Regions from separate parts of the Homo sapiens genome. Here region 1 is linked to region 2. Evidence: fine-mapped expression QTL. A gene starts in region 2. The other region holds a variant in brackets. All regions are shown on one strand. Distances are between the middles of the regions. Region 1 overlaps SPATA3-AS1 (SPATA3 antisense RNA 1). Region 2 holds the start of GPR55 (G protein-coupled receptor 55).

Evidence for each region. PIP is the estimated chance that this variant, and not a neighbour inherited with it, causes the effect.
Region 1: its variant is fine-mapped to the expression of GPR55 in whole blood (TOPMed, PIP 0.94).

The regions. Positions count from the first base shown.
Region 1 is chr2:230,979,564-230,984,934 of GRCh38, forward strand. It overlaps SPATA3-AS1 (SPATA3 antisense RNA 1), which reads right to left. Exons shown (of 6, transcript NR_033879.1): 6 at 4,805-5,371. Among named protein-coding and RNA genes, the nearest start is that of SPATA3-AS1, 14 kb to the right of the region's middle. RefSeq lists an enhancer at 2,187-2,326. The variant G/A (reference allele first, on the strand shown) is at 2,932.
Region 2 is chr2:230,922,681-230,928,051 of GRCh38, forward strand. GPR55 (G protein-coupled receptor 55) reads right to left here and starts at 2,562. Exons shown (of 2, transcript NM_005683.4): 1 at 2,488-2,562. RefSeq lists enhancers at 1,907-2,695, 2,259-2,378, 2,499-2,548, 3,369-3,598 and a silencer at 3,819-3,998.

The DNA of each region.
Region 1 (5,371 bases), 57 kb after region 2:
TATTTACTCCAGATGTGATAACTGACATTATTTACTGCAGATGTGATACTGACATTATTTATTCCAGATGTAATGCCTGACATTATTTACTCCAGGTGTGATACTGACATTATTTACTGCAGATGTGATACCTGACATTATTTACTCCAGATGTGATATTGACATTATTTACTCCAGATGTGATACTGACATTATTTACTCCAGATGTGATACCTGACATTATTTACTCCAGATGTGATGCCTGACATTATTTACTCCAGATGTGATACTGACATTATTTACTCCAGATGTGATACTGACATTATTTACTCCAGATGTGATACTGACATTATTTACTCCAGATGTGATACCTGACATTATTTACTCCAGATGTGATAACTGACATTATTTACTCCAGATGTGATAACTGACATTATTTACTCCAGATGTGATAACTGACATTATTTACTCCAGATGTGATATTGACATTATTTACTCCAGATGTGATGCCTGACATTATTTACTCCAGATGTGATGCCTGACATTATTTACTCCAGATGTGATGCCTGACATTATTTACTCCAGATGTGATAACTGACATTATTTACTCCAGATATGATACTGACATTATTTACTCCAGATGTGATACTGACATTATTTACTCCAGATGTGATACTGACATTATTTACTCCAGTTGTGATGCCTGACATTATTTACTCCAGATGTGATATTGACATTATTTACTCCAGATGTGATACTTGACTGAGAAGTCTACAGTGGCACCTATGCAGTACAGAACTCTGGCCAAAGATATTCAACCTGCATCTAATCTTGTGTAAGCAATCAGATTAACCCACATATGGGACACTCTACAAGACAACTGTCCTGGACTCTTTATCAAAAACTAATTTCACATAAACAAAGAACAACAACAACAATAAAAAGGTGAAAGACTGTTTCAGATGAAAAGAGACTGAAGAGCCATAACAACCAAATATCATACATGATCTTGATTGGATCCTGGATAGGAAAAAAAAATCCAGCATTAAAAGCTCTTCCGGGGACAACTGTAGAGATTTGAATACAGATAGTACACTGGGTGCTATTATGGTTGTGATCATGGTATTGTGGTTTTGTGGGAGAATATCCTTATTAGGAGATGCTGAGATATCTAGAAGTGAAGTGTCAAGATGTCAGCAACTTGCTTTCAAATTGCTCAGCAAAATAAAAGTATGTGGAAATATACAAAGACAGAGAGAGACCAACAGAGACAAAGCAATTGTGGCAAAATGTTAACAGTTGGAGAATCCAGGGTAAGTTCATTGTACTCTTCTTTGAACTTTTCAGAATGTTTGAAAATTTCAAAATAAAATGTGAGGGGGAGGGGAGGGAGTTGCAGGGTGGATAGAGAAGGTTGGGATAGAGCTAGCTGCCAGACCCAAACCATCTGCCACCAACACAGGGAGTTTAAAATGGCCCTCTAAATTACAATAGACTCATCTTCGTTTTGAAATCTTCCTAGGACGGGTGCAGAGGCTCATGTCTGTAATCCCAGCTACTCAGGAGTCTGAGGCACAAGAATCACTTGAACCTGGGAGGCGGAGGTTGGAGTGAGCCTCGATCATGCCACTGCACTCCAGCTGGGGTGACAGAGCAAGACTCTGTCTCAAAAAAAAAAAAAAAAAAAGAAAAAGAAAAACAGAAATCTTCCTAAAAGGAAGAGAAAGCTATACTACACTTTCCTCGAACCTCAAAGCCCCCACTGCTTATAGAAACTTTGAACCCAGTACCCACTGGAAAATAATGAATGGGAAACACACCTGGTAAACACAGTCCAGGTAGAGAGGAAGAGCCTCCCGATGCCCCCAGCCCTGGGTAGGAATCACCAAACCCTACCCCCCAGTTACCAGGCCTGTGAAGCCTCTGGCTTGTCCCAGCTTTGCACTCTTATGGGGAGGGGTGGGGAGAGCCCATCTACCACGCCCGTGTGTCTCCTGTCTTATCATCTAGGACATTCTTACATGGACCTCAGGCACTACTGGGGAAGGCTTTATTCCTTTTCAACACCATCCTCACTCAAAACTGCATTCCTTCATTCATTTGCTTATTTATTCAATGATTTGGCAAGTATTTATTGAACACCAGTGATGCACGAGGCACTGTTTTAGGAACCAGGGACACGACAAGGAATAAGCAGCCGTGGCATCTGTCTTCTGCGGAGCTCACAGGCAAATTGCAACTGTGACAAGTACCACAAAGGGGAGGAACAAGGTGCCCATCAAAGCTGGTGGCATTTGTGTGACAAGCAGGAAATACAATCAACAGGCTTTGGGGATGGGCTGGGTTTGGCGGACGATGAGAAGGAGTGTCAAGAGACACTCCCAGGGTTCTGACTAGTATAATTGGACAGGCAGTGGTGTTCTTCACCAGGACATCCTGGAAGAGGCCTGCAGTGGAGAAAGAGGCGACTCACACCCATGCAGGCCACGGGAGCACAGGTCAGGCACGGAAAGGAGAGGCCTGGGATGTGGTGTGGGTGGGTGGATTGCCTGTGGATTGGTGGTTATGGAAGTTATGTGTAGCAGGGGCCTGTTTTGCGCCTCCACCAGAAACTTCTGCCACTCCCAGGAGGACCACACAGAAGGTCTTCAGTCTCATGCAATTTCCTTTGATTTTGCTCATCTTTGTGCTCAGGAGCAGATCTGGGTCGCATCCTATCCCCCAGGTGACAAGGCTCATCTGGCCTGCTAGCCAGGAGGGTGCCTTTCCTTTGCCTCCAAAAGCAAAGTGGTGGGGGTGGGGGAGGGAACAGCTTGGCAACACAGATACACGTGCACACACACACGCACTCATATGCCTGATCTTTTTCTTTTAGGATTTGCTACCCTAGAGGTGTCTGATTAGCTTTACAAAGGTTAGAGATCATTTTATTTTGCCCAAATTTAGTCAAGG[G/A]AAAGCCCAGTGCAATTCGCCCTCAGTTACCCCCTGGTTCCACATCCAAGATTTCAATCAACCATGGATCAAAAATATTTGAAAAAAGAAAAGCAATTTAAAAATAACAACAGGCCAGACACAGTGGCTCACACCTGCCATCCCAGCACTGTGGTGGGAGGATCACTTGAGGCCAGGAGTTTGAGACCAGCCTGGACAACACATAATGAGATCACAGCTCTACAAAAACCAAAAAAACAAAAATTAGCCAGGTGTGGTGGCACGAACCTGTAGTCTCAGCTACTCGGCAGGCTGAGGTGGCAGGATAGCTTGAGTCCAGGAGTTTGAGGCTGCAGTGAGCCATAATCATGTCACTACACTCCAGCCTGGGCAACAGACTGAGACCTCATCTCCAAATTTTTTTTTTAATAATAGCAACAATAGGCCAGGCACGGTGGCTCACATCTGTAATCCCAGCTCTTTGGGAGGCTAAGGTGGGAGGATCATGAGGTCAAGAGATCGAGACCATCCTGGCCAACATGGTGAAACCCCATCTCTACTAAAAATACAAAAATTAGCTGGGCGTGGTGGCATGCACCTGTAGTCCCAGCTCCTCAGGAGTCTGAGGCAGGAGAATCGCTTGAACCTGGAAGGCGGAGGGTACAGTGAGCCAAGATCATGCCACTGCACTCCAGCCTGGCGACAGAGCGAGACTCTGTCTCAAAATAATAATAATAAATAACACAAATTTTAAAACTAATACAGTACAATAACTATTTACACAGCACTTACATTGTATTAGGTATTACAAATAATCTAGAGATGATTTAAAGTATACAGGAGAATGTGCATAGGTTATTTACAAATACTATGCCATTTTATATCAGAGACTTGGACATCCTTGAATTTTGGTACCTGCAGGAGTCCTGGAACCAAACCCTTTAGGATACTGAGGGACAGCTATAATTGCCCTGGAAAATGGAACCCTTCCCCCAACTCCCATCCCCCACAGTCTCCTAAAAACAAGACATTTTTGGTACAAGTATATTTTATGTGGAACGTATCAACAGGATGGAGTCCCACTTCCAAATGGACACAGGGCAATACGGAGCACAACAGGGCATGTGTGGAAGAAGTGTCCTGGGGGTGCAAACCCTCGGGAATTAAAAATGGGATTGGGAGGTGTATTTGTTCCTGGGGGCTCCTGCAGCAGATGACCTCAAACAGCAGAAACTTACTCTCTTACAGCTCTGATGGGCCAAGGGTCCAAGATCAAGGTGTCAGCAGGGCCACACTCCCTCTGGAGGCTCTAAGAAGAGTCTGCTCCTGCCTCTTCCAGGCCATCCTGGCTTGTGGCTGCAACTCTCAAGTCGCTGCCTCTGCCTTCACATGGCCTTCTCCTCTTCCATCTCTGTGTCTCTCCTCTGCGCGTCTCATATAAGGACATTCATCCTGGGATTTACAATCCGTCCAAGATAATGATCCCAAGAATCATTTCATCTCAAGATCTTTAACTTGAACCGGGCACAGTGGCTCATGCCTATAATCTCAGCATTTTGAGAGGCCGAGGCAGGTGGGTCACTTGAGCCCAGGAGTTCAAGACCAGCGTGGGCAACTTAGGGAGACCTCGTCTCTACAAAAAATACACACAAAAAATTAACCAGGAGTGGTGGTGTGCAACCCTAGTCCCAGCTACTCGGGAGGCTGAGGCCAGAGGATCGCTTGAGCCTGGGAGGTTGAGGCTGCAGTGAGCCGTGATTGTGCCACTGCCTTCCAGCCTGGATGACACAGTGAGACCCTATCTCTCTCACACACACACACACACACACACACACACACACACACGATCCTTAAGACCAGCCTGGGCCACATAGGGAGCTCCACACAGAGCAGGTGCTCATTCAATGTTGTAAATTACATTTGTAAAGACACTTTTTCCAAATAAGGTCACTTACATTTGTAAAGACGCTTTTTCCAAATAAGGTCAAAGACCCTTTTTCCAAATAAGGTCACATTTCTGGGTCCCAGGAATTATAATGTAGATGTATCTTTTGGGGGGCCACCATTAGACGCACTACAGTATGAGACTTTCACAGACCATGGGGGACAGGAGGCAGCGGTTAAGCTTTGTTTCTTTCTGACTTGGCAATGGCGCCCTGTGGTGACAGCCACTCATACTGGAACTGTGCTGAGAAACCCATCCCTCCCTCCAGCTCTCACTGCCGAAGAAAATAGGCATTCTGAGAAATGCTAGTGGGCCCCAACCCCTTCCTAGCCACGCAAGCGACCCCCTCTTCAGGGCCTATTTCCAAGCCCCCTGCTTTGAGGCCCATGCCGGTCATCCCAGATCCCAGCTGCCTCACTCTCCATTGAGTCCTATGACCTTGAGCCTTGATTTCACTTGTTCAAACCCCTCATAAGCATTTGCTGGCTGTCCAATGTACTTTGGACCCCAGGCTTA
Region 2 (5,371 bases):
TTCTCCTGCCTCAGGCTCCTGAGTAGATGGGATTACAGGCATGTGCCACCACGCCCGGCTAATTTTGTATTTTTCGTAGATACAGCGTTTCTCTATGTTGGTCAGGCTGGTCTCGAACTCCCGACCTCAGGTGATCCACCTGCCTCCCAAAGTGCTGGGATTACGGGTGTGAGCCATCGCTCCTGGCCTAATTTTTTATTTTTTGTAGAGACAAGGTCTTACTGTGTTGCCCAGGCTGGCCTCAAATTTCTGGGATCGAGCAATCCTCTTGCCTCTGCCTCCCAAACTGCTGGGATTACAGGCGTGAGCCCGAGCACCCGGCCTGTGCTGGTTCTTAATTGCTGACTCTACACATTCTGCAGCTGGGATTCCCGCAACTGCCAGTGGTCCATGGTACCCTCATCCGCCCACACCCTCAAGGATCCAGTGTCCCACTTGCGGCAGCCCTGTGGCTTTGCCTGCACAGCTGAGACCTCGAAACCCAGCTATGTGGCTCCACACCAGACCTACCTTTCTTCCCTCTGTGGCCTGGACTTTCCAGAGAACACAAGCAACAAGAAGATCACAACCCTAAGGAGGGTTGCAACTGAGAAGGTGGCCCTTCCTGCAGCTGCCAGGCTGTTATCTGCACAGAGCATTGCAGCGTGAGCCACCTCAGAGATGGCAGGGCCAGAGCCTAAAAAAGCAGCATTGGCACAGCCGCAGGGATGGATTTGAGGAGCCCTGGAATACTCCCCCAAAAATGCCGCAGTTAGAATACACAGCGTATCCACCAGTAACACCATAGTGTGAATAAAGTCATCCGCCTGTGCCTGAGCTGGGCTTCTGGGGGCCACGATAGAAGAAGGAACAGGACACAGAGGGGACAGAGCACATGACCACAATCTCCCCAATGCCTGAATGTTGCTGGAGCTTGGGCTGGGGGGTTGGAGTGGGGCTGGGAGAGGGGAGGGGCCGGCTTGGGGACGTGAAAGGTGGCCAGCAGTGTGCTCAGTGATCTACGATGGGAACTCAGGACACTCCTAGGAGATTGCCCTAATTATGCCCATTTTACAGATAAGGACAGTAAGGCTTAGAGATGTTAAAGATTCTACCCAAGGTCAAAAAGGCCGTGAGGGACCAGCTGGAACTCATGTTCTGAGTCTCTCCTCCTCGCTCACCCTGGCCCCCATCAGCATCACAAGCAAGAGCATCTGGGATCCAGGAGTTGCCAAGCCCCCTCCTCACTTCTTTGCATGCTCATGCTCCTCTTTCTCCTTGGACTCTCTCCTCCACTGCTAAAAATCCCACCTCTTCCTTGAAATGCCCACTTCCCAGGTTCACCCACATCATCTGATGTGGTTTTCCCAGTGCAGTCCTGAGTGGGTGCCTTGAAAAGTCCTCTGTGTATCCCAGGGGGAGCGTGTCCCTGCTGTCCTCCAGCAACCCCAGGACCAGGACCATGTCCCTTTCACCTTTATCACCGAGCCTCACATACAGTTTGTCGTTGGGAAGGTCTTATTGCATGAAAGAGGGGGTGAAGAAATGACGGAACAAATGGCCAGGTCTGCTGCAGCTCCACAGTGACTGGTGCTCCCTTTACAGCTGGGACAGCCGCTCAGAACCAAAGGCAAACCTTGCCTTCCACAGAGCTGTGGGCGGCACTTTGCCCTGCCCTGTCCTCTCATCCCCACTGCCTCGGGCAGCACAAAGCCCAGGTGAAGCCAGGCCAGCCAGACATGTCCTGACTTTGTGTTCTCACTCTCAGGGAAGAATCTAGAATGTTCAGGGTTCTAAGTGCTGCTGTGTCTTCCCGCCCAGCCTCTCCAAGAGACACTTGGCTAGGGTTAGAGAACAATGCAGCTATAATGTAGGATAGCAACCAGGGCTTTCCTCTCCATCATTTACTGCCCTTGAGCGCCCCGTGAGGAAGAAACCGTGTATTGCCTCATGCCCCAGAGAGGTAAACGGAGGCTAGAGAAATTACGCAGCTGGTGAGTGGGTGAGCCTGGGCTCCCAGGCTCCTTCTGGTCCCCAGTAAGCACTTGCTCAGGGCTGCAGGATGATCCCTGAGAGTGTGTCATCTCGGGCGCTTGGTGGTTTCCCAACAAGATTCTGGGGAATGGGCGGCGGGCTTGGTGGAGGGCGGTGGCACGTGAGCTACATGCCCCGGGAAGGCTCCCAGGCTGCCTATGGGGAGGTTTCCCGACCCGACATGATGCTGCAACCCTGAGTCAGATCAGGAGGAAGTTGAGGGTTCGTAGAAAAATGTCACTCGTAATCGGGGACAAACCAGGTCTGCCTGCCGCTGCTGCTGTCACGGAGGCTGCCTGGAGGCTGCCGCTGCCCTGACACCTGGGACTGCTCGCTGAGTTGGGACAGGTGTGCACAAAGCCCAGGCCCACACAAGCCCCACTGATCTTAGGAGAGTTACCTGCAGTCCACAAGAGCAAGGTCAGGTTGGAGGCTCCGTGCCTTAGTTTCTCTAAATGGCCCAGAGGCTGTTACCTGTTGGTGGTCCGGTGCAGCTGAGAGGGCTGAGAGATGTCATTTCTCCTCCAGGCCTGGCTGTCAGCCTGTTCTGGGGAGAGTCACTTCCCCTCTCTGGGTCTCGACTTCCTTGTGAGTGAAATAAAGGGGTGGGACCAGATGCTCTTTGAGCCGCTCCAGTGTCACCCTGTCTGGCTTAGGGGCTCTTGCTCTGGGGTCTACAGAGAGGCTGTGTGGAACTAGAGTGTGGACATGGGGAGCAGTTTCCAGGAGGAGGGTCTACACTCTCCCGCCCTCTTGGAAGATCTGCACGCCCCCCTCCCGCAGCTCCAAAAAACAAAACAAAAAACCAAAAAGCCAAAAATCACACTGCATGTGTCAAGCCCTGGGAAGCCTCTGGAGGAGGAAGCCTCCTACGCACCCCAGACACCCTAACAGGGGCACCACACAGGGGCAGCCATTCTCAGCACCTGCCAAGGGCCGTCGTGGCTTCCAGCACTTTGGGGGTTTAGGATTTGAAACTGCTGCCCACAGAAAGGAAAGGAAGGTGGTGCTATTTAGTACTTGCAGGTTAGGACTTGCGTGCCTAGCGTCGGAGGAGACCTCAGCCACTGCATGTGTGTCTGCAAGAATGGTCAGTGGGGCCCCACAGGTTCCCCAGCCTCGGCTTCTCTGTCCCAGGCCTGCACAGAGATTTGGGGCAGCCTTGGGCCTGTGGCTTCCTAGGGCCCTGCAAGCAGAGATTTCCCTGGCATCTCCCACCTTCAGGGCTGGGAGGGCTGAGACTCACCCGTGGGCCTGGGTGGCTCTTAGCTGGGAGCCCTCATAGATTCCAGCCCATCAGGAAAGTCTGGGCTGAAACTACCCCGGCAGATGCAGCTCTCATGCCCTGGAGGTGCTGGGAGGCCCTGTCGGAGGACCAAACACAAGCAATTTTTAAAAGCTATGCGTGCTGGGACTTTCAGGTGTCTACAGGAATAGAAACTACTCCTGGGTTTTTTGGATGATTCATCCAACACATGGGTCCCCTCTGTAAATAACACCTTGCAAGTCACTGCAGGGGAACCACCTGGCCCTCTGGAGCTGGGTCTTCCCACTGTCTGGTGAAGAGGTTGATGGAACCATGACAACTTTTAAGCTCTCACCTGGGCTTGTGCGATGGGCAGTGCCAAGTCCACTGCCTGCTCCAGGCCGTGGAGCCCCAAGCTGGCCTGGGTGCCAAGACAGGGCACAGGGCAGTCCTGCCCCCAGCGAGGCCCCCCTACTGGGCCACCAGCCCAATCTAAGCCAAAGGCTGGCTACTGGGCAAGGGGGGGCAGCCAGGCCCGCACCCTGGGTGCGGGAGGAGGCCAGGAGCCTGCTGGGACAGTAGCAGGGAGGAAACACACCGGTGTCTGGCACCCACCTCCATACCCAGAGCCTGCAATGTGAGGCCCCAGGAAGGCATCCACACTGAGTGGCCTGCAGGGAGCAGTGTCTCTGCTCAGCCCCTTCTCAAAGGGAGCCTTGTCTACTCCCATTCTGGCTACCTTCTTTTTTTTTTTTTTTTTTTTTTTTTGATACAGAGTCTCGCTCTGTTGCCCAGGCTGCAGTGCAGTGGCACTATCTTGGCTCACTGCAACCTCCACTTCCCGGGTTCAAGTGATTCTCCTGCCTCAGCCTCCTGAGTAGCTGGGATTACAGGCTTGTGCCACCAGGCCCGACTAACTTTTTTCGTATTTTTAGTAGAGACAAGGTTTCACCATGTTGGTCAGGCTGGTCTTGAACTCCCGACCTCGTGATTCACCCACCTCGGCCTCCCAAAGTGTTAGGATTACAGATGTGAGCCACCGCTCCCGGCCCTGGCTACCTTCTTTTAAGAAATGAATATTTCTACTTTATTGCTGTTGCAATATTAAAATTTTTAAATTTTTAAATTTTTGAAAACATGCACATGATTCAAATACATATGTAAACACATATAGGAAAATATCTGTCCCACTCCTAAATCCAGCTCTCACCTACCCCCCAGGGCACCACTGTTAAGTTTCTTCCAGAGTTTCTGTGCCCGCCCGTGTACACCTGAGCTCTTATTTTCTCCCTCTTTTGACACAGAAGCTAGAGACCACACGAGCTGCTCTGCAGTAGAAGGCATTGTCCACCTCCCTCTCCTGTGGGTATCCCTTGGATACCTTGGGGGATATCCAAGGTATATGGGGGATCCCTTGCCAAGATACGTCTCCAGAGAGACTCAAAGGTTTGAGCTCCTAAGAGCAAGGCTAGGCAGGGACTCGCCCAAGGCCCCGTCCTAAGGCTCAGGCCTGTCCCTCGAGCTTTTCGCCTCCCCTTGCCACAGGCCTGGGGAGTCATAAATAGGAAGACCTTTCTCAGAAAATTTCCCTTAAGCCTCCTGAAACTTCTCCCCCTAGTCCTGCCCACCCTCTCACCATCCAGAATCACTTGGAGGTTTTGGGAGCCTGGGCAGGTCCCTGCCTGTCTTCCAGGCTGGGAGCCCCGAGTTGGGGGGTTTGGGGGCACACACCTTCGACTTCACCAGTGGAGCAGCTTCGGAGCTTCAGGAACCAGCTTCTTCTAGGGCAAGGAACAAGTGAATCTGACTGTGTTTATCAAAGAGCGGGTCCAGGATAGCTGGGCGCTCACCACATCCTCCCCTGACGCTGGTGAAATTCGCTCCTTCAGCAGCCAGAGGCCTGGCCCTGCCCTCGTGGGGCATCCTTTCCCTCCAAGGGGGGAAACCTGCCCACCAGGGGGTTTGCAGGGTGACCACTTGGCCCAGAGCTGTGCAAGAAGTGCTCCCAAGCCTGCCCCAGAGAGCTGGTCAGGGAACAGGGGCAGGGGCAAGAGCTGAACCCTAAGAGACACGGGGAGGGAGGAGGATGCTGGAGGAGGGCAGCCCAGGTGC